Homo sapiens: one gene and its partners. The protein of the gene in region 6 purifies or fractionates together with the protein of the main gene of each other region. This does not show direct contact. Each region holds a gene or a part of one and is shown on either strand. Other genes may lie near its edges. The genes, in order: XPO4, GNPTAB, CNNM1, FREM2, ZFC3H1, SLC47A1 and ATP8A1.

The links.
Region 1: the proteins of SLC47A1 (region 6) and XPO4 purify together in Homo sapiens (affinity purification with mass spectrometry; one large-scale study listed by BioGRID and IntAct). This does not show direct contact.
Region 2: the proteins of SLC47A1 (region 6) and GNPTAB purify together in Homo sapiens (affinity purification with mass spectrometry; one large-scale study listed by BioGRID and IntAct). This does not show direct contact.
Region 3: the proteins of SLC47A1 (region 6) and CNNM1 purify together in Homo sapiens (affinity purification with mass spectrometry; one large-scale study listed by BioGRID and IntAct). This does not show direct contact.
Region 4: the proteins of SLC47A1 (region 6) and FREM2 purify together in Homo sapiens (affinity purification with mass spectrometry; one large-scale study listed by BioGRID and IntAct). This does not show direct contact.
Region 5: the proteins of SLC47A1 (region 6) and ZFC3H1 purify together in Homo sapiens (affinity purification with mass spectrometry; one large-scale study listed by BioGRID and IntAct). This does not show direct contact.
Region 7: the proteins of SLC47A1 (region 6) and ATP8A1 purify together in Homo sapiens (affinity purification with mass spectrometry; one large-scale study listed by BioGRID and IntAct). This does not show direct contact.

The regions. Positions count from the first base shown.
Region 1 is NC_000013.11:20,896,247-20,899,746, forward strand, and holds part of XPO4 (exportin-4), read right to left. Parts: intron 1-3,500. UniProt on the Homo sapiens protein: Mediates the nuclear export of proteins (cargos), such as EIF5A, SMAD3 and isoform M2 of PKM (PKM2). In the nucleus binds cooperatively to its cargo and to the GTPase Ran in its active GTP-bound form.
Region 2 is NC_000012.12:101,761,460-101,764,959, forward strand, and holds part of GNPTAB (N-acetylglucosamine-1-phosphotransferase subunits alpha/beta precursor), read right to left. Parts: coding exon 2,743-3,500; intron 305-2,742; coding exon 105-304; intron 1-104. UniProt on the Homo sapiens protein: Catalyzes the formation of mannose 6-phosphate (M6P) markers on high mannose type oligosaccharides in the Golgi apparatus.
Region 3 is NC_000010.11:99,332,356-99,335,855, forward strand, and holds part of CNNM1 (metal transporter CNNM1), read left to right. Parts: intron 1-3,500. UniProt on the Homo sapiens protein: Probable metal transporter.
Region 4 is NC_000013.11:38,872,077-38,875,576, reverse strand, and holds part of FREM2 (FRAS1-related extracellular matrix protein 2 precursor), read right to left. Parts: intron 2,836-3,500; coding exon 2,643-2,835; intron 1,096-2,642; coding exon 991-1,095; intron 1-990. UniProt on the Homo sapiens protein: Extracellular matrix protein required for maintenance of the integrity of the skin epithelium and for maintenance of renal epithelia. Required for epidermal adhesion. Involved in the development of eyelids and the anterior segment of the eyeballs.
Region 5 is NC_000012.12:71,653,849-71,657,348, reverse strand, and holds part of ZFC3H1 (zinc finger C3H1 domain-containing protein), read left to right. Parts: intron 1-47; coding exon 48-464; intron 465-3,500. UniProt on the Homo sapiens protein: Subunit of the trimeric poly(A) tail exosome targeting (PAXT) complex, a complex that directs a subset of long and polyadenylated poly(A) RNAs for exosomal degradation. The RNA exosome is fundamental for the degradation of RNA in eukaryotic nuclei.
Region 6 is NC_000017.11:19,575,354-19,578,853, reverse strand, and holds part of SLC47A1 (multidrug and toxin extrusion protein 1), read right to left. Parts: intron 1,528-3,500; coding exon 1,301-1,527; 3' UTR 1-1,300.
Region 7 is NC_000004.12:42,577,106-42,580,605, forward strand, and holds part of ATP8A1 (phospholipid-transporting ATPase IA), read right to left. Parts: intron 2,874-3,500; coding exon 2,708-2,873; intron 1,283-2,707; coding exon 1,155-1,282; intron 1-1,154. UniProt on the Homo sapiens protein: Catalytic component of a P4-ATPase flippase complex which catalyzes the hydrolysis of ATP coupled to the transport of aminophospholipids from the outer to the inner leaflet of various membranes and ensures the maintenance of asymmetric distribution of phospholipids.

The DNA of each region.
Region 1 (3,500 bases), on a different chromosome or scaffold from region 6:
CAATTAATTTTTCTCCCACCTCAGAAAAGGGTGAGGAGGAAAGAGAGATTTTGATTGACATTATATTCAATTTAGAGATGAATGAGGGAGAAATTGCCACCTTAACCGGATTGACCTTTCAGACCAAGGAGCATAGCCTTCATTTAATTCAGCTCTTTTATATTCTGCAAATAAGCTGTATCATGTTCTTCACAAAAATGGTGCATGTTTCTTATCAGTGCCCTATAATTTATTTCTACAGTTTTTCTTTCTAACAGAATGGGATCTTTTTTCCAATTTTAAGCTGATCACTGCTGATATAAAGGAAATCTTGCAACCCATTTATTTTTCTTACATCTGGTCATCTTTCCAAAGAACTAATGGTTCCAACAGTCTTAGTTATTTTGCTTAAACTTTTTTTCCGAAATGTCATATCACCTGCAAATAATCATTTTTTGGCCTTTCTTTCCAATATCTGCACTTATTCCCATTTTTTGTATTACTGTATCAGTTAGACCCTCCAGAAGGTATTAAATAACAGTTATATTAGGACTCCCGTTTTACTTCTGAGGATATCATCATTTAATACATGGTTTCAGATAACTATTTGTTATCATATTGAGAATTCCCTTCAATTCCTAGTTTATCCAATTGTTTTAATCATAAAATGCTGTTAAATTTTAACAACTGCCTTTTAGGCATCTATGGATGATTTCAAATGCCTTTTTGCATTTCTTCTCTGGATCACTGGCTATGTTCCAATTAGTGTGACACAAGTCCAACTGCAAATACACATTTAATTGAACTGAATTTGAAACATAAATTTCCTATTAATTAGCTTTTTTGAGAAAAAGAATGCTGTGCCAGTTTTCTAATATCTAGTGCCACCGCAGGTACTACAAGACAGGGCTGAAATAAACAAAAATGCATACTTACTATAATGCATCTTTCAAATAAGAAAAGTAGGTTCAATTAATTAAAATTTTCATTTTTATGACGTGTACTGTGGTTACAAAAAAATAAAGGCAGTGTACCTTACACATTGAAGGTCTCAGGAAATATCTACTACATAAATGCTCAAATATTCCTCAAACTCACTGTATTTCCCCAAACTATATTCTCTCAGACTATATTCCCCAAAATATATATCTCCACCTGGGATATTGCTTATCAAACTAGAAAACTCTAATCTATTTTTCATGATTCAGCTTAAGGGTTACCTATTCCAAGAAGCCCTTTCTCAGTCCCTATCTCAGCCTGAGATAGATGTTTGTACCTACTTCTATTATAACTTTACCAACCAACATTTGCTAATATTTTTGCCTTTCTCCACTCCTTGAAAAGAAGGTGCTTCTTCTGTCTCCTCAGCATACACAGCATAGTGTCTAACATGCTGTGTTTCTATATACTGAAGAAATGTTCTAAAACAAATCAATGGCCAGAAATTGGATTCCAGATCCAAACTAGCTACATGACAACAGGCAAATCATTTGCCATCTCTGAATATCAGGTTTTCATATTTATTTATTTATTTATTCTATTTTTTTGAGACAGAGTCCCGCTCTACAGCCCAGGCTGGAGTGCAATGGCACAATCTCTGCAACCTCTGCCTCCTGGGGTCAAGTGATTCTCCTGCCTCAGCCTCCCAAGTAGCTGGGATTACGTTATAGGTATGCACCACCTCGCCCAGATAATTTTTGTATTTTTAGTAGAGTCATGGTTTCGCCATGTTGGCCAGGCTGGTCTCGAACTCCTGACCTCAGGTGATCCACCTACTTTGGCCTCCCAAAGTGCTAGGATTACAGGTGTGAGCCACCATGCCTGGCCAGGTTTTCTCATTTATAAGGTTTAGGAATATCTCATCCTATTTACTTCACAGGACTGATATGAGAATGAAGACAAAAATTTTTCTATAGGACTACAGATGTGCAAGTATTTTAGAAGATATTAACCAGATTCCACTATAATAAAATCTATGAAAACCAGTCATGAATCTCGTTTATTAAAGTTGGATTTACACTCACTAAATCCATCCTGGTTTAAAAACAAATGTATGGGCCGGGTGCGGTGGCTCACGCCTGTTAATCCCAGCACTTTGGGAGACCAAGGTGGGAGGATAACCTGAGGTCAGGAGTTCAAGACTAGCCTGGCCAACGTGTTGAAACCTCATCTCTACTAAAAATACAAAAATTACCCAGGCGTGGTGCCAGGTACCTGCAGTCTCAACTACTTGGGAGGCTGAGGCAGGACAATCACTTGAACCTGGGAGGCAGAGGTTACAGTGAGCTGAGATTGTGCCATTGCACTCCAGCCTGGGCAAGAGTAAGACTGTCTCAAAAGAAAAAGGAAAAAAAAAACCTATGAAAATTACTTTTCTATAATGTATCAGTTAATATGTGTGCTCTGCACTATCTTATATTATTGCTACACACAATCACTAAGGACAATCCAAAACAACCTAATGAAGACAGGGCAACAAAACCAAGCAAATTCAAGACAATAAATAAAGCGCTCTTTGGACTGCAAATGAATGTGGCATCAATACTATAAGAACACTAAACTTTTCAATAATGTTGTCTCTAAAATCAAAACACCTCCTACATTTTAGTATACAAGAGGATGTGCATAGGTCATACACAATTACCATACCATATCATGTAAGAAACTCACCTGGGCACAGTAGCTTACGCCTATAATTCCAGCACTTTAGGAGGCCAAGGCAAGAGTATCACTTGAGCTCAAGACCAGCCTGGGCAACACAGTGAGATCCTCTCTACAAAAAAATATTTTTAAAAAATTACCCATTCAAGGCTGCAGTGAGCCATGATCATGCCACTACACTCCAGCTGGGACAACAGAGACCCTGTCTCAAAAGAAAGGGAGGGGATCGGGGGGACTTAAGTATCAATGCACGGTTGATGTCCATGGGTGGAGGCGGTTCCTGGAACTAACCTCTCATGGACACCGAGGGACAACTGTACTACTTTATCTGGCAGCTTATCCAATAATCTAAATTGATTGAATATAGATGTACCATATTTAGACATTTTCCATCAAGTAATAAAATGTAACATTTATAGTATATGTTGACTAAGAACCAACATGGTTGAGTAAAAAAAGTAAAAAAAAAAAAAAAAGAGTAAAGGTTTTGAAAGGGGAGTCTGGTGATCTCAGCCTGGATCAGTTATATCATGAATTTGCTCTGTGACCTACCTTGGGCAAGTCACTTCTACCTCTTTGAACCTCAGTTTCCCCATCTGTAGCATAGAAGGGAGAATGCTTAGACTTGATTCTTATTTTTCAGTTTCTAGTCTCTCAGAGACGGTGATAAAAGCTCTAGACCCTATTACTAAAAATGTACATTTACACCAAAAAATTTGTTACAATTTCCTTTTGATATTCATCCTAGACTCCCTAAGACTTCTGTACCAAAAGATCTAAGATTCTTCTATGTTCTAAAATTCTATGCTGATTTCCATAAAACAACTATATGAGTTACCTAATGAAAAATTAAGCAAAAA
Region 2 (3,500 bases), on a different chromosome or scaffold from region 6:
GTCATCAAATATTAGAGCTATAAATTTAGCATGGTAAATATGCACATTTCAAGTAGCCTTAGTTCTGAACACAAGCAAACAACTCAAACACGAGCAAGACTTACATATCTTGCAGTTCTTGCATAACAATCCGGTCAATCATGTGAGGCATGTGAGCAGGGACTTTCCGCGATGTGAATCCAAACTTGCTATTTAGAATTTTATTTACATATCTGAGGGAATCTGCAAATGTATCTTTTAGTTGCCTCCCAGTATTTTTGCTATCAGTGAAGTATGCCAATTGTGTCTTCAATGACTCTTCTTCCTGAAAAGAGAATTCTACATGTAACTCAGCATTATGTTTAGTGCACAAGTGTACTTTGTTACAAGACATTTTATATAATGTGGTAATAACTAGTCACGAACTCTTCATTAGGAGCAAATGAAATACATGTTAACGGGTCACTTTAAGGATCTAAACTGGACTTAGCAGGACTCAACTGGATTTCAGTGCAAGTATCACCAATGTTGGTTTGAGAACAACAGCTGTACGATGGAGATCTACATAACAACAGTCACATATGGAGGGTATTCTTCAAGGACTGGTCACTGACTGTGAGATGTCAAAGCTAATTCAATGCAACATTTAGAAAATTTATGTACATATACATTTGATAGTACTTTCAATATCAAGCTATTTCTGCAGGTGATATCAAATGTGCAAGTCCTTGAGTTTTAAGCGCAAGGACTAGAAACAAATTTGGTTTCATCTTATAATAGTTTTAATATTATAAAATCAAAACCAGTCAGTGGCAGAACTAAATAGGCAAAGAAAATTGGCAAAGCATTCAAACACTTTACAGAAATATTTTTGCTTCTCAAACTGATAAAAATAAAAATGTAAGGAGACTGATATTAACTGGTGTTGGTTAGACTGCAGTGAAACAAGCACTGTTGTATACTGTTTGTGGAAATATGAAGTGGTGCAACATTTCAGAAAGACATATTTAAAGTTTATACCTGCTAAGCTAGTAATTCTACCTGCAGAACTAAAACTCACTGAAATGTAAGATATATGTACAAGAGAATTCACTGCAACACTATTTGTAATCACAAAACATTGGAAATAACTAACCTGCAGCCATTAAAAAGAATAATGGCACTGGCATGGGTATAAATAAATAAATAAATAATGGCATTTGCCCACATCCTACTACATCAAAAGGCAACTGCAGGGAAATATATGTAAATTTACACTATACATATATTTCTCTATATATAACTATACATACATATAGGTATGTTTGCATAGCTATAGAAAAATACTGGAAGAATACCCATCAAACTATTAACAGCAATTATCTCCGGGAAGGAGACTGAAGAAGGAAGAACTTTCCTTTATTTACTGTATATTTTTGAATTGTTTGCAATTTTTACTACTAGCCTATAATGCTTTTGTAAATTTAAAAAAAAAAAAAAAAAAAAAGGAAAGAGGCCAGAGGCCAGGCACAGTGGCTCACGCCTGTAATCCCAGCACTTTGGGAGGCCGAGGCGGGCGGATCACCTTAAGTCAGGAGTTCGAGACCAGCCTGGCTAACATGGTGAAACCCCGTCTCCACTAAAAATACAAAAAATTGGCCAGGCATGCTGGCACATGCCTGTAATCCCAGCCACTCAGGAGGCTGAGACAGGAGAATCTCTTGAACCTGGGAGGCAAAGACTGCAGTGAGCCGAGATCACGCCATTGCACTCCAGCTTGGGAAAAAGAGCGAAACTCCATCTCAAAAAAAAAAAAAAAAGAAAGGAAAGGAAAGAAAATGGGGGAAACTGAGGAAATAAACATAGTCAAGAACACTGCAGTCCTTCACTAGACAATCTGTAAATGCCTCATGTGCAAGGCACAAGATACTTCCTAAAATGCTGAGGACATAGTTCCTCCTTCACTCTCTTTTCTCCCAGCCTAACACCCACTCGTGGCTGTGTGCCTTCACTATTCAGCCCAGACTGTATGATTTTTTTTTTTGGTCTGTCAACTCCCACCCCTTCGAAGGTCAGTCCACAGGGCACTTCCTTCTGTATGCCTTCCCTAGTACTTCTAGGCAGAGCTAAGGAGTCCTCCCTCTGAACTTCTTGCCCATATCTCAACACAGACACATCTCTTTGCTACAGTTTTCTCCCCACAAATTTGTCTTCTCTACTGGTCCCTGAGTTTCCACATGAGCAGTGGCTATGTTCCCGTCATCTTGCATTCCCCAGTGGTTAGCACCGTGAGAGCACTGAGGAGAGGTACAGATGACACCACAGCACAGTGAAGCCATGGTACAGGGCAACGAGCAGTCCAACTTTGAGGCTTGGCTCACACTGATTTGCTGTTATAATGTTGGGGAAGCGAATGAACTTAATTGAACTTCAGGGTTTTTCATCAGTAAAGCTGGAAAAATACCATATCTGAAATGTCAAGACAAGACAACATGCCACTTCCCACTCTCCTTCCTCCAAGTACGCCCCTGGCTAAATCCCTTACTCATTCACACTTGGGCTGTTTCCTAAACTACAAAATGGGGACAGCAATAATAAATACCTTCATATGACATTTTTTATTATTAGGGTTATTGGGTAAATTAAATGAAACCATGTAAGAAAAGCATTTAGTTCCATGGCCGGCACAGGGAAGTGCTGAATAAATGGTAGCTATAATGATATTATCATGAGATTATTTACTCTTCCTGAGCATGAGAAAGAATGAGGCTGGATGTTACTTACGTCGAGAAGATCTTGGAAATACTTTTTTTTCTCCCATGGCAAAAAGCCCAAGTAACTATCTGTGTAATGCTGCAGCTTTCTTCCAAGTAACACTTCAGTAACGCCTATGTGATTTTCAGCATTTTCCTCCATTCTACTGTTCTCTTTTTCTTTCCCTGTGATTTTCTTTTCTTTTGTCATCTGGCTTTCCAGTGGAACAATCAGAGATGGGGGCTTTTCTTTTGTCACATTTCCGCCTATGGTTTTTTGGGTGTGAGTTTCCACTCTAAATCTTGCTGTGGTCTCCAAGTCCAGGGGTGGATTCTGACCCTGGTCATGACCATTCACTTTTACACTCACTGCAGGAAAAGTCAACCTCTGCAATCTTTCAGACACTCCTAAGCTGTTTGGCAAGATGCTTTTATGAACCTGTTTTTCCTGTGGAGCCACCAAACTGTCATTTGTTTCATCTGTTATTATAGCTTGATTTTTTATTTTAGCATGCTGTGAGTTCATCAGAAATGATCTCAGCAAGGCTGACTTGGACAAATTGTATCCTTTCAAAGTGATGTCTCCATGTTCCAGTTGCAAATCCAAGGTATTGAGACTCAACTGGGCGTCTTTTGGAAGGAGTGAAATATTTACCAGGGGAATTTTCACCTCTTCCTGGGCTCTCCTTGTTGAGTTAACATCATGTCTCTTAAACTTCGGGAAGCGTTTTTCTTTGGGAATATCCTCAAAAAGGATTTCCGCCTCTGGAAGAAGTGTTATGGGACTAA
Region 3 (3,500 bases), on a different chromosome or scaffold from region 6:
GATATAGCTTCCTAATGGCTAGCAGTACTCTCATTTAACTGCATTTTGTATAAATTTTTTGTCAAAAATTTAATGTCATGATAATTTGAGCCCGAGGCTGCAGTGAGCTATGACTGTGCCACTGAACTCTAGCCTGGGTAACAGAGCAAGACCCTGTCTCAAAAAAGAAAGAAAGAGAGAGAGAGGAAGGGAAGGAGGGAGGGAGGGAGGGAAGGGAAAATTCAATCTCACTACTTTAACATCATAAATAATCTTTAGAACTTTGAATACAAACAAATCTGGGGTCTTTTTCCTGCCACAATTTTTGAAATCATATTAAATATTAAAATGTAGCCTGGAAGGGGGGAAAAAGGTCTAAAAGCTACTTTCAGTCTCAGATTTGAGAGAACAGCCCTAGACTTTGTGTTGGTATGATGAGAAGGGAGAGAAATGTATATATGGCAGCTATTTTAGTCCATTTTCGGTTGCTGTCTCACCCTGTTCAGTCCATCTCGCCTTAATCCTTGCATTCATAGTTCCCACTGCAACTTGAGGTTCATCTATCCACTCTTAGAATTATGCTTACATTTTGTATATCTTACAGAAGTAGGGTCTTAGATCTGGGCATTGGGTGGCATAAACCACAGAAATTTATTTCCTCAAAGATCTGGGGGCTAGCAGTCCAAGATCAAGGTGTCTGGCAGGTTTGGTTCCTTCTGAGGCGTCTCTCCTTGGCTTGCAGTCACCACCTTCTAACTGTGTCCTGACATGGTATTTCCTCTGTATGCATGCATCCCTGGTGTCTCCTTGTGTGTCCAAATTTTCTCTTCTAACAAGGACACCAGTCAGATTGGATTAGAGCCCACCCTAATGGCCTCATTTTAACTCAGTCACCTCTTAAAACTGATAGTTAAGATACAGAGCAGTTAAGATAGTGTCTCATTGTCATGTGCTGGCAGAAGATGTTTTAAATGAAACTCCTGTGAACTCATTCATTCATTTGTTTAGGTTTGTTTGTTTGTTTGTTTGAGACAGAGTTTCACTCTGTCGCCCAGGCTGGAATGCAGTGGCGCCATCTTGGCTCACTACAAACTCTGTCTCCTGGGTTCAAGTGATTCTTCTGCCTCAGCCTCCCAAGTAGCTGTGATTACAGGAGTGCACCAACACGCCTGGCTAATTTTTGTATTTTTAGTAGAGACAGGGTTTCACCATGTTGGCCAAGCTGGTCTCGAACTCCCGACCTCAGGTGATCCACCTGCCTTGGCCTCCCAAAGTGCTGAGATTACAGGCATGAGCCACTGCACTTGGCCTCATTTAGTATTTTTTAAACATCTATACAGTTTTAGGCAACAAGGGAGACAGGAAGACTGTCCTCAGGAGGTTAGCAATATACAGGGCATAATGAGCAGTCTTTCGAAGCAGGAATTGTCATATCAACTCTTATATCCCCAGCACCTTACACACTGCCTTGTAAATAGTAAGCTGTTCCAAAAAGTTGATATTGATCTGAAATGAATCCCTGTGCAGAATTTCTAAACCTGGTCGAAAAAAGCTCCTTTAGTGTTCTATTAATAGCTACTTTGTATTTAGGTAGAGCACTAAAGAGAAGCAAGCCATTACAGAGAATACTATACCAAGGAAGATATTTCCACTTCCTTTCATAGCCTTGCTACTTCCTCAAAGTAAGGTCCGTGAAACAGCAGCATGAGTCTCACCTGGGAACTTATTAGAAATGCAGAATTTTATGCCTCACCCTAAATCCACTGAATGAAAATCTGCATTTTAGCAAGCTGCCAGGTGGCTCCTATGTAACATTAAAGTTTGAGAAGCATTGCCTTCAGAGACCCCTTATTAACAGTGTTTGGTAGATCTACTTAAGATAGAATATAAGACATAATGAACAAGGTGGATGTTCTCAGGCTGCAAGCCATATAACATAGTGGTCATTTTCTTTAGGAGTTATACATTTGCACCATAGGTTAGGAGGTGAAAGCTGGGTTGAACTGCTTTCCTTTACCTTTAAAAATAACGTTTTTGGCTGGGCGCAGTGGCTCACGCCTGTAATCCCAGCATTTTGGGAGGGCGAGGTGGGTGGATCACCTGAGGTCAGGAGTTCGTGACCAGCTTGGCCAACATGGTGAAACCCCATCTCTACTAAAAATACAAAAATTAGCCAGGTGTGGTGGCACACACCTGTAATCCCAGCTAATTGGGAGGCTGAGACAGGAGAATTGCTGAGACAGGAGGCGGAGGTTGCAGTGAGCTGAGATCGCACCACTGTACTCCAGCCTGGGTGACAGAGAAAGACTCTGTCTCAAAATAAATAAATAAATAAGAAAAAAATAATTTTTAAAGCTGGTCTTTAATAGCTCTTCCATTTTCCTTACTTCCTTGCTTCTCAAGTAACGTAACCACCAACAAATCCCTTCGAAGGTAGAAGAGGAAAATGACGATATTAATAGGAGCCACAGTTACCATTAATTGAGCACCAACAGTTCTTCCAGGCACCATGCCAGGCCCTTTACATACTCAGAACAACCCTCCTGGGTAGATGTCATTAACTACATTTTACAGATGAAGAAACTAAAGCTCGGATCAATAACATGACTTGTACAACTTTCCATAACTAATAACTGACTGAACTGTGATGTGAACTACATCTGTAGGACCCGAAAGCCTGTTCTTTCCCTGCTACACCTGTCTTATTCCTTCCTCCATCCTGGAATTCCTGCCACCCACAGGGTTCAAAGGTAGCCTTTTCACCTCTGATTGCTGCCCATGGCTGATTCACCTCCAGTTTCTGCAGGTTAGTAATGTAGCTTTATAATTACAGTAATTGCTAACATGCATATTGCACTTGATAAAACATTTCTATATACCTTCTCTTGTCCAATCTTAAACAACTCTGCAGTTACAGGTGATGATATGGGATTTTATCTTTTTACTTCTTATGAGTTGCAAGTCTTTAGAAGTGGGGAAGAGGAAAATGGTCTTTCACACTAGAGTGTGAGGTTTACAAAAGGGAACAATATTTCTCACCACTGGACTGTAAGTTCCTTGAGGACAGAGAATGAATCTTACTTATTTTGTATTCTCAGGACAAGTATAGTGACCGCCATGGCTAGGGGATGTATAACCATTTATTGAATAAATGGTTTTAAATACCTAACTTCTATATTTCTATGTTTGAGTGAGGTGAACCCTAAGTACGGAATAATTAATGTTGTTCCTTGATCCCAGCAAATCTCTCCTCTTCCTCTTCATGGGCCTCTGTCCCCAGTAAGTGGCACCACTTGTCCCTTTAGTCTCCCAGACTAGAAAGCTTTCCTTTGCATTCACCTCATCCTATTAATCATTGTCGTCTGCACAGGCTGTCATTAGAAAATAGCATAGACTGGTGACCTAAACAACAGAAATTTATTTTCTCGCAATTCAAGGCTTTGACATCCAAGATCAAGGTTTTGGCCAACTCAGTTTCTGGTGAGGACGTTCTTCCTGGCTTGCATGTGGGTGCCTTCTCT
Region 4 (3,500 bases), on a different chromosome or scaffold from region 6:
GATTTTAGTTAGATTGCCTGCAATCATGGCTACACAAAGATTCAGTTTATTAGAAAGGTAGGCATGTAGAAGAAAACTGTATAGACCAGAAAATCCTCATTTTCCAGAACTGTCAAATACAATAAAGCAAAATGATTTTTTTGGGTTCTTTCTTTCTTGTAGCTCAGTTCCATAAAAATACAATGAAGCCTCTTTCTCTTCCTAATTATTCAGCCCTATTCTCTTTTGTTAGAGTTCAAGTCCAGAAAAAGAAAAGCTATAAAGATGTTGAGTGAACTATTTTCCCTTTCCCAATCTAATATAAGCTGGCAGAAAAATGGCTTATTTTTTATTTGACTCTCCATGTTACTAAACTGGTAATATGGAGAGTCAAATAAAAAATAAGCTCTTTCTAGTGAAATGTCCTTGTTAAAAAAAAACAAAAAACAAATGAAGTTAGACGTGGGATTTTATCGACTGCTGCCTTGTTGATATTCAAAGCACAGCGAATCACAGTTAGTAAAATTGCATAGCCAATACTTATTAAACATAATTAACATGTCCAAAACTTAAATATGAAAGTGAAGTACCTCCTCTGACCCTATTAAAAGGGTTTCTCACAGTACCTAGCAAAAAGCTGTGAAAAGAGAAGTGCTTGCTGAATGAATCATCTGCAATTCGATTTGTACAATGGAAGCAAAGCAGAGAAAGAAATGATTATTCCTATGCTCTTTAAGGAAAACTTTACTTAAAATGAACTCAATAGGGTTTCCTTTTAATTTTACTCTAATTATTTTGCATTTTCTCTGAAAGTCTGCATAATGATAATTTTGTGGATTATGAGGTGAAGCTGAACAATTATCAAGCTCTCATGGAGATAATCCCACATGTACAATTCATTTGAGATTAAGGGCTTCAGTGGTAACAGAGAAGCACGCTGAAATGTGTGAAGATGGAAAATCTACCTCCTTTTTGTGTGAGGAGTGGTTGTTAAAAGATAACGGGGCTTACCGGGATGTGACAGCACAAATAAGCCATGGAACTGAGCCTCTGTCTTGAAGTGCACGGCCAAGCGCCCCTCATCACCGATGCGCATGCTGGTTGGATAGAGAGAACCTATAATGGGGAGAGTACCAAGAATGAAAATATATGTAGCCAGAGACCCCTTATGTACAGATTCCTTCCAAAAATTAATTCAGGTTTGACTTGTCTTTAAACATTCTGGGCAAAGGGTATTATCAGAAGAATTCTGAATAACAGAGGCAGAAGTATCTTCATTTTCTTTTCTAAGCAGAAAAGGGAGCCAAAATGAATTATTAAGTAACATGAGTGAAGTCACTATGAAATACACAGATTACTTACAATAGACCAAGTTTTTTTAAAATCTGAGTTTATAAAAATGAAGCTGTAAATTGAGAGGCATGACAAAATTGTCAAAATGATGGAGATTCGGACATGTAAATAGAAATAGGTTTGAGTTATCCAGAATTATTCCTAATTTTATAGACTTAAAGAAACCTCTGAAGCTTTCCCAAGAAATTTAGCAGTTTGATAAAATTTGGCTCCAGAAATCAGATGGAAACAAGAGATCCTATGTGGAGGTTGGGAACCACAGAAAAATCCTCATTAAGATTAACTTAAATATACATCTTCTAAAACAAGACACGGACTTAAAACATTTGAAATAATTTGGAATCATAACTCAGGGTTATCATATTACCTGTCACATAGCTCTAAAATAGAAACTATTCAAAATGAAACATGGAGAAAAAAAGACAACAACAAAATGAACAGAGCATAAATAGGTTTTAATCCACTTAAGAGAGTAGATTTACATTTGAGGTGCACTATTAACTCTGTTTTCCTGCTGGCTAGTAAAATGCAGTACTGGCATGACACTATGGATGTTTGTGGAATCGGAACAGTAATACATGTCTGAAAAAGAAAAAGCACTCGTCCTACTAATGGATTAGATTGATGCTTGTGGACTTTGAACTATGAGTCTAACATGGAGATTGAAACCAAGTTTTGCAAATGCTCGCGAACTCGAACTAGTGGCATTCACAATCCGAGTTCGCAGACATTCAACTAAAGTACCCCAGAGTAATAGAATTTTACATCAGAAAGAGATATTAGAAGTTGTGTCTATCATTCAGAAAAAGTTAAGTCCCAGAAAGGTTAAGCAATATGCTTGAGATCTCACAGCTAGTTAGTTGTAGAGTCATGACTAGAATTCAGGCCATAATTTGTATTTAATTTAAATGCACCTCTTTTTTTCAGAAATAAAAATGTGTAACTTTTTCCCTTGGTCATTTCTTGCTTTCGTTGGAGCTTCCTCTATCCATTTTCTAGAATTCAGAAAAATATATATGTTGTGTTATGTAACACATAAATAATTAATCACCTAAAATAGATCGCAAGGATAAAATATCCATGAAATATATAAAGTCATATTTAATAATCACATATTGCACAAAATTTAAAGCCCTAATATGGTTTAAAGAGTTTTTTGATGAAAAAGGTGAAATTATCTTATTATAGATAGAAAATGAAAATATACTGAAATTTGCTAGTACTACTTTTAGCAATGGCAAAAAAAAATCGTCTTAAATAGTTTAAATAGGTTACAAAACTATAGAATTTTCCAAGTCTTCTGAACTCACCTTGAAGTTCAGCCTCTGGGGGGCTGCCAATTCCATCATTCCACAAGATGGCGGTGTCGTACACAAAAGTTAGACGAAGCTCTGACTTCAAGTCAAAATGCTGCCAGCCTCCTACCCCCACGGGGGAATGGAACACGTAGGAAACATACAGAGGGACTCGAAGGGTCACATAGGACTGCACTAGGTTTAGGACCTAAAACAACAAAATTACATCAATCAACATGACTCAGTGTTAACTAAGTGGGCCTAATTTTGTACAAGCCATTTTCTCTTTTCGCTTAACTGAAGATTTTGAGTAATCATTGAGAAGAGGAAATGACAGCATTTTATAACACTATTTTCCCCTCACTTAATTTTGGATCGATTAAATAGTTGTTACTAATTACCTTCATTGGCAACAAAGGATATGTACCAGAAATCCTTAAGACAGTGCATTATTTTGAGCATACTATACTTACAAAATCCTCTTTAGAGCAGTTTTATGAAGATAGTTTACATACCATGTAATTCACCTATTTAAAGTAAACAGTTCAATGGTTCTTAGTATATTTAAGGAGCTGTGCAACCAACACAATCAATTTTAGAAGATTTTCATCACCTCCAAAAGGAAGCCTGTACTTATTAGCAGTCACCCCCAATCCCTCCTCCCCGTCAGTCCCTGGAAACCACTAGGTCTTTATGTATTTGTCTATCCTGGACATTTCATATAAATGGAATCATACAAAATGTGTTTTTTTGTGATAGATTTCTTTCATTTAGCATAATGTTTTCAAGGTGCATCCATGTTTGAGCACGTTTCAATACTTAATTCCCCTGTTAATGAATTGCAGCCCATTGTATGCACATATTACATTTCAT
Region 5 (3,500 bases), on a different chromosome or scaffold from region 6:
AACTGTGGAAAATTTTTGGAAACTGGTTTCCTTAATATGCTGTTCAGCCAAAAGTTTTGGAAGGTCTCCATCAAGAAAACAAAATTATTCATCAAAAAATGAAAACTGTGTGGAAGAAACTTTTGAAGATTTGCTTTTAAAGTATAAACAAATACAGTTGGAACTAGAATGCATCAATAAGGATGAAAAACTAGCATTGAGTAGCAAAGAAGAGAATGTGCAGGAAGATCCTAAAACATTGAACTTCGAGGACCAAACTAGCACTGATAATGTCAGTATTACAAAGGATTCAAGTAAAGAAGTAGCTCCTGAGGAGAAAACACAAGTCAAAACTTTTCAGGCATTTGAATTAAAACCACTCAGGCAAAAATTGACTTTACCAGGAGATAAGAACCGTTTGAAAAAAGTTAAAGATGGAGCAAAACCACTTTCCCTGAAATCCGACACTACTGATTCTAGTCAAGGTAATGGAATTAAATATTTCAGTTAGTAATGACTCTTCTTCCTCTAAAGTAGTAACTACTTGTTTTGGCAGTGTACTTCATTGAAATGATTGTAATTATCTGTAAATTCTTTTGTACTTTCTATGTAGACATTCATATCATTGAATAATTACTAATTTTGTTTACTTTTAGTCTTTATTTATTTATTTATTTTTTGCCTGACATTCTGGCCTCTATAATAGAATGTTATACATAAGTGATAATAGTGGACACCTTTGTTTCCTAATTTAAAGAAAATGGTTTTGACATTTACCATTAAATATGATGTTAATTTTTTTGTAGGTATCCCTTATCGGGTAAAGGAGGGTTTTACTCCTATTCCTGGTTTGAAATTTTCAGCGTGAATGGATGTTGAAGTTTACAAAATCTGTTTTCTTCATTATTGGGATGAGCATCTAATTTATTTTAATTTGTTAGTGTAATGAATTATATAATTTATTTCTAGTATTAAACCACCCTTGTATGCTTGCGTTTAATACAGTTTATGATATACCATTTTTAAATCATGGATTTGGCTTGTTTTTTCTTTTCCTCTTTATTAAGATATAATTTATATACAGTAAAATTTATCTTTTAACATTATAAATGAATAAGTGTGTAGTTCTTCAGGTTTTGACAAATGTAGACAGTGGGTAACCATCACCAGCTACCATTAAGATACAGAATTCTTTCATCAACCTCAAACAGTTTCTCCAAGTGTCTTTGTAGTTATCCCGTCCCTCAGCCCTTAGTTCACCTGGTAACCACTGATCTGTCCCTATAGTTTTGCCTTTTCCAGAATGTCACACTAATGGAATCATACAGTATATTGCCTTTCATTATAGCTTCTTTCATTGAGCATAATGTGTTTGAAATTCATTCATGTAATTGTATATGTCAGTAGTTCTGTGTATCCCATCATACTGTAGTTCATCCATTTCCCAATTATGTTTGGGTTTTTCCAACTTTCGGCTATTACAAATGAAGGTTTGCTAGTGTTTTGTTTAGAATTTTTTATGTGTTCAGAGCCTGTAATTTCCCCCCCCTCTTTTTCCTTGACAGTTTTTAGTGTAAGGTTATAATACTCAAATTAGTTGGGGCTGTTTTCATCTTTATTCTCTGTAATAGTTTAAGATTGGAAACATTCTGAGATACTTGGTAGATCTTGCTGATAAAAGTGTCTGGGCCTGGGTGGAGTTTTTTTCTGAGAAAGTTTTAATCTAACTTCGTGTTTTCTATTTCTGTTAAGACAGTTTATGTAAACTCTATATTTTTTGTAATGTGTCTATTTCCTGTAAGTTACAGAAGTTATAAAAATTGTTCTTAAGAATCCTTTACTTTTTTATCTGTAGTATTTATAAGTTGTACCTTTTTTTTCCCTGCTCTCTTCTTTAATTTACCCTGAAATAAGTACATAAGTTTTTAAACTCAGTTTTCAGCCTCTCTCCTATTAAGATCATTTTAGGCCATAAAGTTTGACTTTAGTTCTGTCTCAAGTTGGGTTATTTAACTTTTTTCATTCATTCTGAATATTTTCTAATTTTTATTTTTCATTGACTTGTAGGCTGCTTGGAAGTATGTTTCTTCTAAACATGTAGGTTGTCTAGCAGTATTTTTTATTGATATCTAAGTCAATCATACTGTCAGAAAATAAGATTGCTATGATAACCAATCTTTTGAAATACTTGGAGACTTCCTTTATTGTCCAGTATGTAATCAGTTTTTTGTAAGAGTTCTGTGTATGTTTGAAATGAATTTATAGATTACTTGAGCTTTTTGTGTTGTTCACTTTTTTTATTTTTTGATATGCTTGATCAGTTACTAAGAGGAGTTTGTTAAAATTTGCCAGTATGATGATGGATTTGTGATTTTTACTTTTTGCTTTAAATACTTTGAAGGTGGGTAATTGAGTCATTATGTAGTGACTTTATCTCTGATGTTTTTGCCTAAAAGACTATTTTGTCTTATATTAATAGCCACATCATCTTTCTCTTTATATAATTTCCCACTCTTTCAGTCTTTCTGTATCCTCATGTCTCGGATATTACTTGTACATAGTATAGAGCTGGTTTTAATTTATAATTCAGTATGACAATCTTTGTCCTTTAGCTTGAACGTATAGTCTACTCACATTTTTTATGATTATTGACATTTGGTTTTATTTCTTCTTCTTTTTTTTCTTTTTAGGCTCTTATTTTTCTTCACACAATTTTTTTTCATTTGCTAGTTTGGAAGTTGGATACTAAATTTCTGGTCTTATATTCCTACCAGTGTTTAAAGTTAATCAGGAACCTTACTCTTTCCCCGAAATACAAAGAATGATATTTGCTTAGCTTTGCCTATATATTTAGCACTTTCTTGGCTCACTCTTTGTATCATGTCTGGAATTATATATGTATAAATATATTCTCTGTGTGTGTGTGTTTTAGATAAGATCTCACTGTGTTGCCCAGGCTAGAGTGCAGGAGTATGATCATGACTCAGTGCAGCCTTGACCTCCTGGGCTCAGGTGATCCTCCCACCTCAGCCTTCTGAGTTGCTGGGACCACAGGCATGTACTACCATGCCCGGCTATGTTTTAAAAATTTCTGTAGAGACGGGGTCTCAGTATGTTGTCTAGGCTGGTCTCAAACTCCTGGGCTCAAATGATCCTCTTGCCTTAGCCTCCTAAAATGCTGGGATTACAGGTGTGAGCCACCATGCTCTGTGCTTAAATACATTCTTTAGACTTTTTTTTTAAAAATGTGTTTTTGCTGGGTGGAAAACGATTTCCGTTTACTCTTTTTAAAAGATATTTTCCCTGGGTTTAGAATTCTAGGTTGTTTAATTATATGCTTTTTGTTTGTTTGTTTTTGAGACAAAGTCTTTCCCTGTCATCCAGGCTGGAGTGCAGTGGCACTATCTTGGCTCATTGCAACCTCCGCCTCCTGGGTTCAAGTGATTCTCATGCCTCAGCTTCCTGAGTAGCTGGGACTATGGTACATGCCATTGCGCCCGGCTAATTTTTGTATTTAGTGG
Region 6 (3,500 bases):
CTACAACTGGTGAGCAACCGGGCAGGCAAAATTATTCCTAGAGCTTCAGCAAGTTCTCTCAGCAGTTATGGACAAAGCTGGTCCCAGCTTACAGCACGCAGTTTCACCAGCTGGATGTGCAGAGAATTACATTACTAGATTAATGTTATGTGCCTGAGGTGCTTTTATCCCTGGCTTCTTGACTTTTGATTGGGTGTGATAAGAATGACTTAATTTGGTGTAATCCACTTTCACAGCACTGAGCATACTTAGTATGTACTGAGGGTTGCTGAATTAACGGTGTGTACCGCACCCCAGGAAGGCTTAATGAAGTAGGATTACTGCTTAAGCTAAGACCTTTATTAAAATTTTGTCCTCTGGCCAGTCGTGGTGGCTCATGCCTATAATCCCAACACTTTGGGAGGGCAAGGTGGAAGGATTGCTTGATCCCAGGAATTCAAGACCAGCCTGGGAAACAAAGGGTAGACCCTGGTATAAAAAATTAGCTAGGCGTGGTGGCACACGCCTGTGGTCTCAGCTACTCAGGAGGCTGAGGTGGGAGGATCACTTGAGCCCAGGAGGTTGAGGCTGCAGTACGTCACGCACACACCCCTACCAGGAATTATCAGTCTTTGTTTGGATTTCCACAGCTCGAAAGATTTCCCAACTGTTTTTCAGTGTCCACAGTGCCTAGATCTAGACCTCAAATGAAGATTAACAAATGCCAGCTGGGCATGGTGGCATACCCCTGTAGTCTCAGCTACTCTGGTGGCTGACACAGGAGGATTGCTTGAAGCCCAAGAGTTCGAGGCTGCAGTGAGCTATGATCGCACCACCGCACTCCAGCCTGCATGACAGAGCAAGACTTCCGTCTATTAAAAAAAAAATTAAAACAAAAACAAATACCATTTGCCCAGTGAATAGTAATCTAAGGCCCAAGGAAAGATATACTGTAAAATATATTTTACATAATTCAAGCAGTATGAATTCTTAAGCAGTTAGTTTATGGGTTTGTGTCTAAAAAAATAGCAGAAGTATCAAAGCCATTGGCCAATGCAGTCAGCACATTGATCCTTGCTTGGTTCAGATAGTGGTGAATTACTACTCATGTCATCTTTCAGACAGTGTCTTGGGCCACAATATAGCTTTTAACCTTAGTTGCTTTTTCTTTTTATAGAAAAATGTGTCTTTGCATTTCCAGCCCTCAAAATCCATGGGCACACCTGAATGACATTAACTCACAGTAAATTGTCACTGGTGGGCCTGTGAATTGTGTGTAAGCTCAAAAGCATCACTTGACCTGACTTTCTTTCCTACCACGTCACTGAATTCTGACATAGAATCTCACTAAAATCCCCACCAGCAAGATTAAGAAGACCCCCAGGAGCAGAAGCCCTCGCCGCAGCACCAGCTGTTTCCTGGACAATTTAGCGCCGTCCTGTGGATGTTCCGGCAAAGGTTCTTCTTGGCGCATCTGCTGATCTGACTGAGGCTCGCCTGTCTTTCCAACATCGTTCGTTAAAATTCCTTCAAGGTTTTCAGGGCACCCTGGGAGGAAAAAGGAACTTAGCAGCTTAAAAGGGATTTTTTTTTTCATTTTTATAAAGGGCTATGTATAAAAGGAATATGTGCTAATAGTGGAGAGAAAGTTAATTCAGGACACTATTGCTACAGTGAATAAATAAAAGAAATCTTATCGCAGAGTGCCCCTCCACTCACTCCTTCACGAACACCGATGATCCTACCAGCGCTGGCTTGGGTGCTCCAGGGAGCACTCTCCCAGGAGCTAGAGAAATAAGGTAGCCCTCTCCATTAAAATTCACAGGGAAGCCGGGCGCGGTGGCTCATGCCTGTAATCCCAGCACTTTGGGAGGCTGAGGCAGGCAGATCACCTGAGGTTGGGAGTTAGAGACCAGCCTGACCAATATGGAGAAACCCCGTCTCTACTAAAAATACAAAATTAGCCGGACATGGTGGCACATGCTTGTAATCCCAGCTACTCAGGAGGCTGAGGCAGTGAGGCAGGAGAATCGCTTGAACCCAGGAGGCAGAGGTTTGGGTGAGCCAAGATGGTGCCATTGCACTCTAGCCTGGGCAACAAGAGCAAAACTCCACTCCAAGGGAAAAAAAAAAAAGGATTCACAGGGGAAATTTTCAAGGAGCCAACACCCATCTAATAAGCATTTCAGAACAAAACACAAGGAGAAACAACCTAAGAAATAATTCAAGTCTGGGTGCGATGGCTCACGCCCGTAATTCCAACACTTTGGGATGCTGAGGTGGGAGAATCCCTTGAGCCCAGGAGTTCAAGACCAGCCTGGGCAACATAGTGATACCTCATCTCTACAAACAAAAACTTTGCTGGGCCTGATGGCGTATGCCTATAGTCCCAACTACTTGGGAGACTGAGGTGGGAGGATCACTTGAGCCCAGGATATCGAGGTGCAGTTAGCTATGATTGTGCTACTGCAGTCCAGCCTGAGTGACAGAGAGAGACCCAGTGTCAAAAAAAAAAAAAAAAAAGGAAGGAAGAAAGAATACAAGGCTATTCACAGAATGGGAGAAAGATGTGACCGTTCACATCAAAGGGCCTACTAAGTATTGAAGGATTGCAGAGAATTTCACCCCAAGATATGGCTCCCTGGTATAATGAGTATTTTAAATTAAAAACTCTTTGGAGATCAACAGGCCTTGAAAGAGACTTTTCCCCATCTACATAAAAGCCAGACAAACCCACCAAGAAGAACAATTGCCAAACCTTTTACAAAATAATGCCAGTCTCTCAGGTTCATTCAACTTCCAAAGGGAACCAGTCTGTCCACCCTGCCCCCAATCCATTCATTCTGCAAAATATTCAATCATTTTCCCTAGTACTCATTTACTATCCCTCAACAGAAGCACCAAATGCCCTATCTCCTCTCTCCCCTCTGAAAGTTGGTTATATGAGTGTTGGGCCTCACTGGGATGTTGGGTAATGACTGTGATTCTTCCCTTTTGCATGGTTAAATACATTTGTATGCCTTTTCTCTTATTCATCGGCCTTATTATAAGTTGATTTTTCAGTGAACCATCGGAGGGCAAGGGGATAGCTTCTCCTTCACCCCAACAGTTTCAAGCAGATAATGATTCACACCTAGACTTAGTCTCAAGACACTTCAGAACAGTAAGAGTAATAGGCCAGGCGTGGTGGTTCACACCTGTAATCCCAACACTTTGAGAGGCTAAAGCAGGAGGATTGCTTGAATCCAGAAGTTCAAGACCAACCTGGGCTGCAAAGCAAGACCTGGTCTCTACAAAAATATTAAAGAGTTAGCTGAGCATAGTGGCACGCACCTGTAATCCCAGCTACTCAGGAGGCTAAAACGGGAGGACTGTTTGAGCCTAGGAGTTTGAGACTGCAGTGAGCTATAATTGCACCACTGCACTCCAGCCTGGGTGACAGAACAAGACCCTATCTCAAAAAAAAAAAAAAAGGAATAATAATAAGAAAATGTCCTAAAAGCTTCCGAAGAGAAAAATGA
Region 7 (3,500 bases), on a different chromosome or scaffold from region 6:
AGCATAAGCCTGCTGGGTTCATCCAATACTAAAATTATATAATTCTTTGAAAGATATTATTTTTGAAAATCAAAACAACAAAGTGATTATCTAGCTTACTTATGTGATTCTCACAATGAGTTACCCTATTATTGCTATAAGAAACTTCAATAAGTCTTACTTATATTTGTACATATCCTATTACGTAATTTTTCAGCCATATATCTCCTGCATGAAGTGAGCTACACCTGCAGCTCATTTTAGATTTCTAAATCACACTGATTTCTTACCAATGAATTAAGAGATTGACAGTTTAGGTAGATAATTCGCTACAAGAAGATAATGAGCAGTTACAAAAGTATGTCATATTTTTCGAAACCCTAATATTGTTCATATTGAAAGACTTTACAATGATTGAAAAAGAAAGAAACATCAAAAATAACACAAAGTTTCTCAAAATAAAAGAAAAATTAAATTTTCTGGCAGATTAGGCCCACAGATTTAATTTAGATAAATTCATTAATTTTAACTTTAATAAAAATAAAACTAAGACATTTAAAAACATTTAGAAAGTAGATGTCCAACATTTTTCTAATATTTAACAATATTCAAGAGAAAAATTATGAAGAAAAATTCAAGTGAAGCTAAAATTGTTTACAGTGTAGAAAATAACATGATATAACATGATAATCTGGTTGATATCAGTAAGAATTACAGTATTATTTGTATAGTGATTGATTATTTTCAAAGCTCTTTGCTATGTCAAGAGATTCCTTAGTCCATAAAACCACTGTAAGATGTAGGTAAGGCATATTATCCCTATGATTGTGTTCAAGAAAATAAGTTTCAAAATAAGTGACTTGAGAAAGTTGATACACCTAGTAAATTATAATACTAGAACCATAATTCAGACACTTAACTCCAAACTCATGGTTCTCCATCTCCCACGACCACCATAGGTTTCCTGAACTAGAGACCCATTTTCCCTACAATGTCTGGCCTGTAAACTTGTGTGATTCTGAGATGAGGAACTTTGCAACAAATTAGGTTCAAAAATCTGATACTGTGGTCAAGAAACGGTAGATATAATTAAAACCTTTTTTCTCCTGAGATATCAAAATATCCTAAGGACAAAATTATTTTGTAGGGTGATAACAATCATAATTCATATTTACCCAATTTATGAAGTATGCCTGGGTAAATTTCACAACTTCTAATGTAACCAATAAGCTGATAGGAATGAGATTGTTGAAAAGGATGATGAAGGTCAAGAAATTCAGTCCAAAATTACTAGCGCCACCATCTGTTGGGAGAGGCAGGAAGAACGTCATTTACAGTTTTATATTTTATTTGCATTGACCCCAAATTAGCATAATACAAGTTTTCCATACTACGCAGCTTATTTGATAATTTGGGAGGAACACTTTGCTGATAATCTATCCTAATTCTCAAGTACATCCTTCAAGATAGAATTGCATTGTGTTCAATATGTTGTTAATCCAGGTAAGAGCTGTATAAAAGTACTAAGACAGTGAAAGGACTGTCAAATATTGCAAACCCTCTTCCAAACACAAAGTTTAGAGACATCAGGGATAGCACTGAGGGTTTATAAATATAAAATCTCAATTGGGTAGAATCACTTTTATATAAATTCTTAAGAGTATTTCCAATTTAAAGCATACTTTAAAAGCAAACAAGACAGCAGCAGCAAAAACAATCCAAACTATATGAGTAATATTCAGTCCTAGGTAAATTATTCTCCTAGGTACATTATACTCTTCTTCCTCAAAATGAAAATAAAACTGCTATACCAGATACAATTATAAAGTATACAAAGAAACAGACTGATGGTAGTAACAGTTCTGATACTGAAATAATAAATCAGTAACTATAAAAACAACTTGGAATTGCTGCAAAGATAAATCAATATAATAAAAAAAATTTAAAAATACCAGTTTTTGCTATGTGATTGTACTAGAATTTGCTTTCACACTTTTGGAAGTTAAGTCTTTATTGGCTAAGTACTCATGAAATGAAAATGTAAACTCATTTGACAGAAATATCCAGGGGTGGTACATTAATATCACAATAATAAAAGGATAAATGCTCTAAAGGAAAACTATTTACTAGCACCTTCTCTAAGATAACATTTAATATAGGACTTACCACATTACTGAGTTCAAATGAAAATACATTGGGTTTAAACATTTTTAAACCATATAAACCACTTTTTGGTACTTTTATTTAAATAAAATATAAACAAAGTATATTTTATTTAAGATAAAATATATTTAAATATTTATATTATTTAAATATATTTAAAATATTTTATATATTTATAAATACATACAATATATATTTAAATATATATGTTTTGTTATATCCACACATGGTCAATCTACTTTCTTTACCATATAGTTAACCACCTATGTTAAAAATATTTTTAAGGAATAGTTTTCGTTGATATATATAATAAATGACTATACTTAGTGAACATTTTATACCACTATAGAGTGCTCATTATGTTTTTAAGGATTCTGAAATTTTAGGATTCCCAAATTTTACTTACACTTGCTAGAAATCTCACTGAAAAATAAAGATCAAATGTCCAGCTATCTTGGCAACAAGGTCTTTTTAGAAACAATACGAAATAAAGTAAATCAAGATCAATTGTGAAACAAATACATGTCTTAATCTAAAAAAGTGCAGTAAGCACTTTATTGCTTACAGTTTAGATTGAGATACCAGTCTTTTCCAGAATGCCTTCGATTCCAAATGGCTGAGCCCACAGAACAGACAAGAGACATGGCAATTAAGATACAAAATAAAATCAAAATTTGTACATTTGTAATCCGTTCCACATTTGAGAGCTTAAGTGGTGGACTTGTTGAATTCTGTAAAAAGAAACAAGATGAGTAATAAAAAATGTACACCAATGATTTAGCAATCTATACTTAGTATTCTGTTGAGGATGACAAAGTCACAACTCAGTATCTAGATGTGGGTGGATACGTGAAAATTATGTGAAACCCATGACAAATGTAATAAGGTGCCAATGGTTAACCACCTTTTTTTCAAGGCCACTACACCACCCAGGCCTTTTTCTAGGAAGTAAACTATAAGAAAGAAGAGAACGAAATTACATTCCCTTTGCAAAAATAGCTTTTGCATTGTGGCAGGTAAGATGAATAATGCATTACTTGGCTATGTAAGCAAACAGGGTAGTCTAGAAACATTTAGTGTTTCCGTTCAGGAAGACAGGCAGACAAGGCAGCCCATGCTCCCGCAAACAGGCACCTGGAAATTTGAACATAGGAAGGCAACATTTAAAGGATCTCCGGCTTTCAAATTTCTGGTGGCATTTAGCAATTGTTTTACTGAACGCAGCAACAATTTAAGTAGTCCTGGCTATAAAGAATAACAGAGGCAAGTTGCCTCAGTTGTATTTGATGATTCAAATGGTTATGTAGACCTGTGCTAACCAAAAAATCCATAGAACAGAAAATTAAATGTCAGAATGA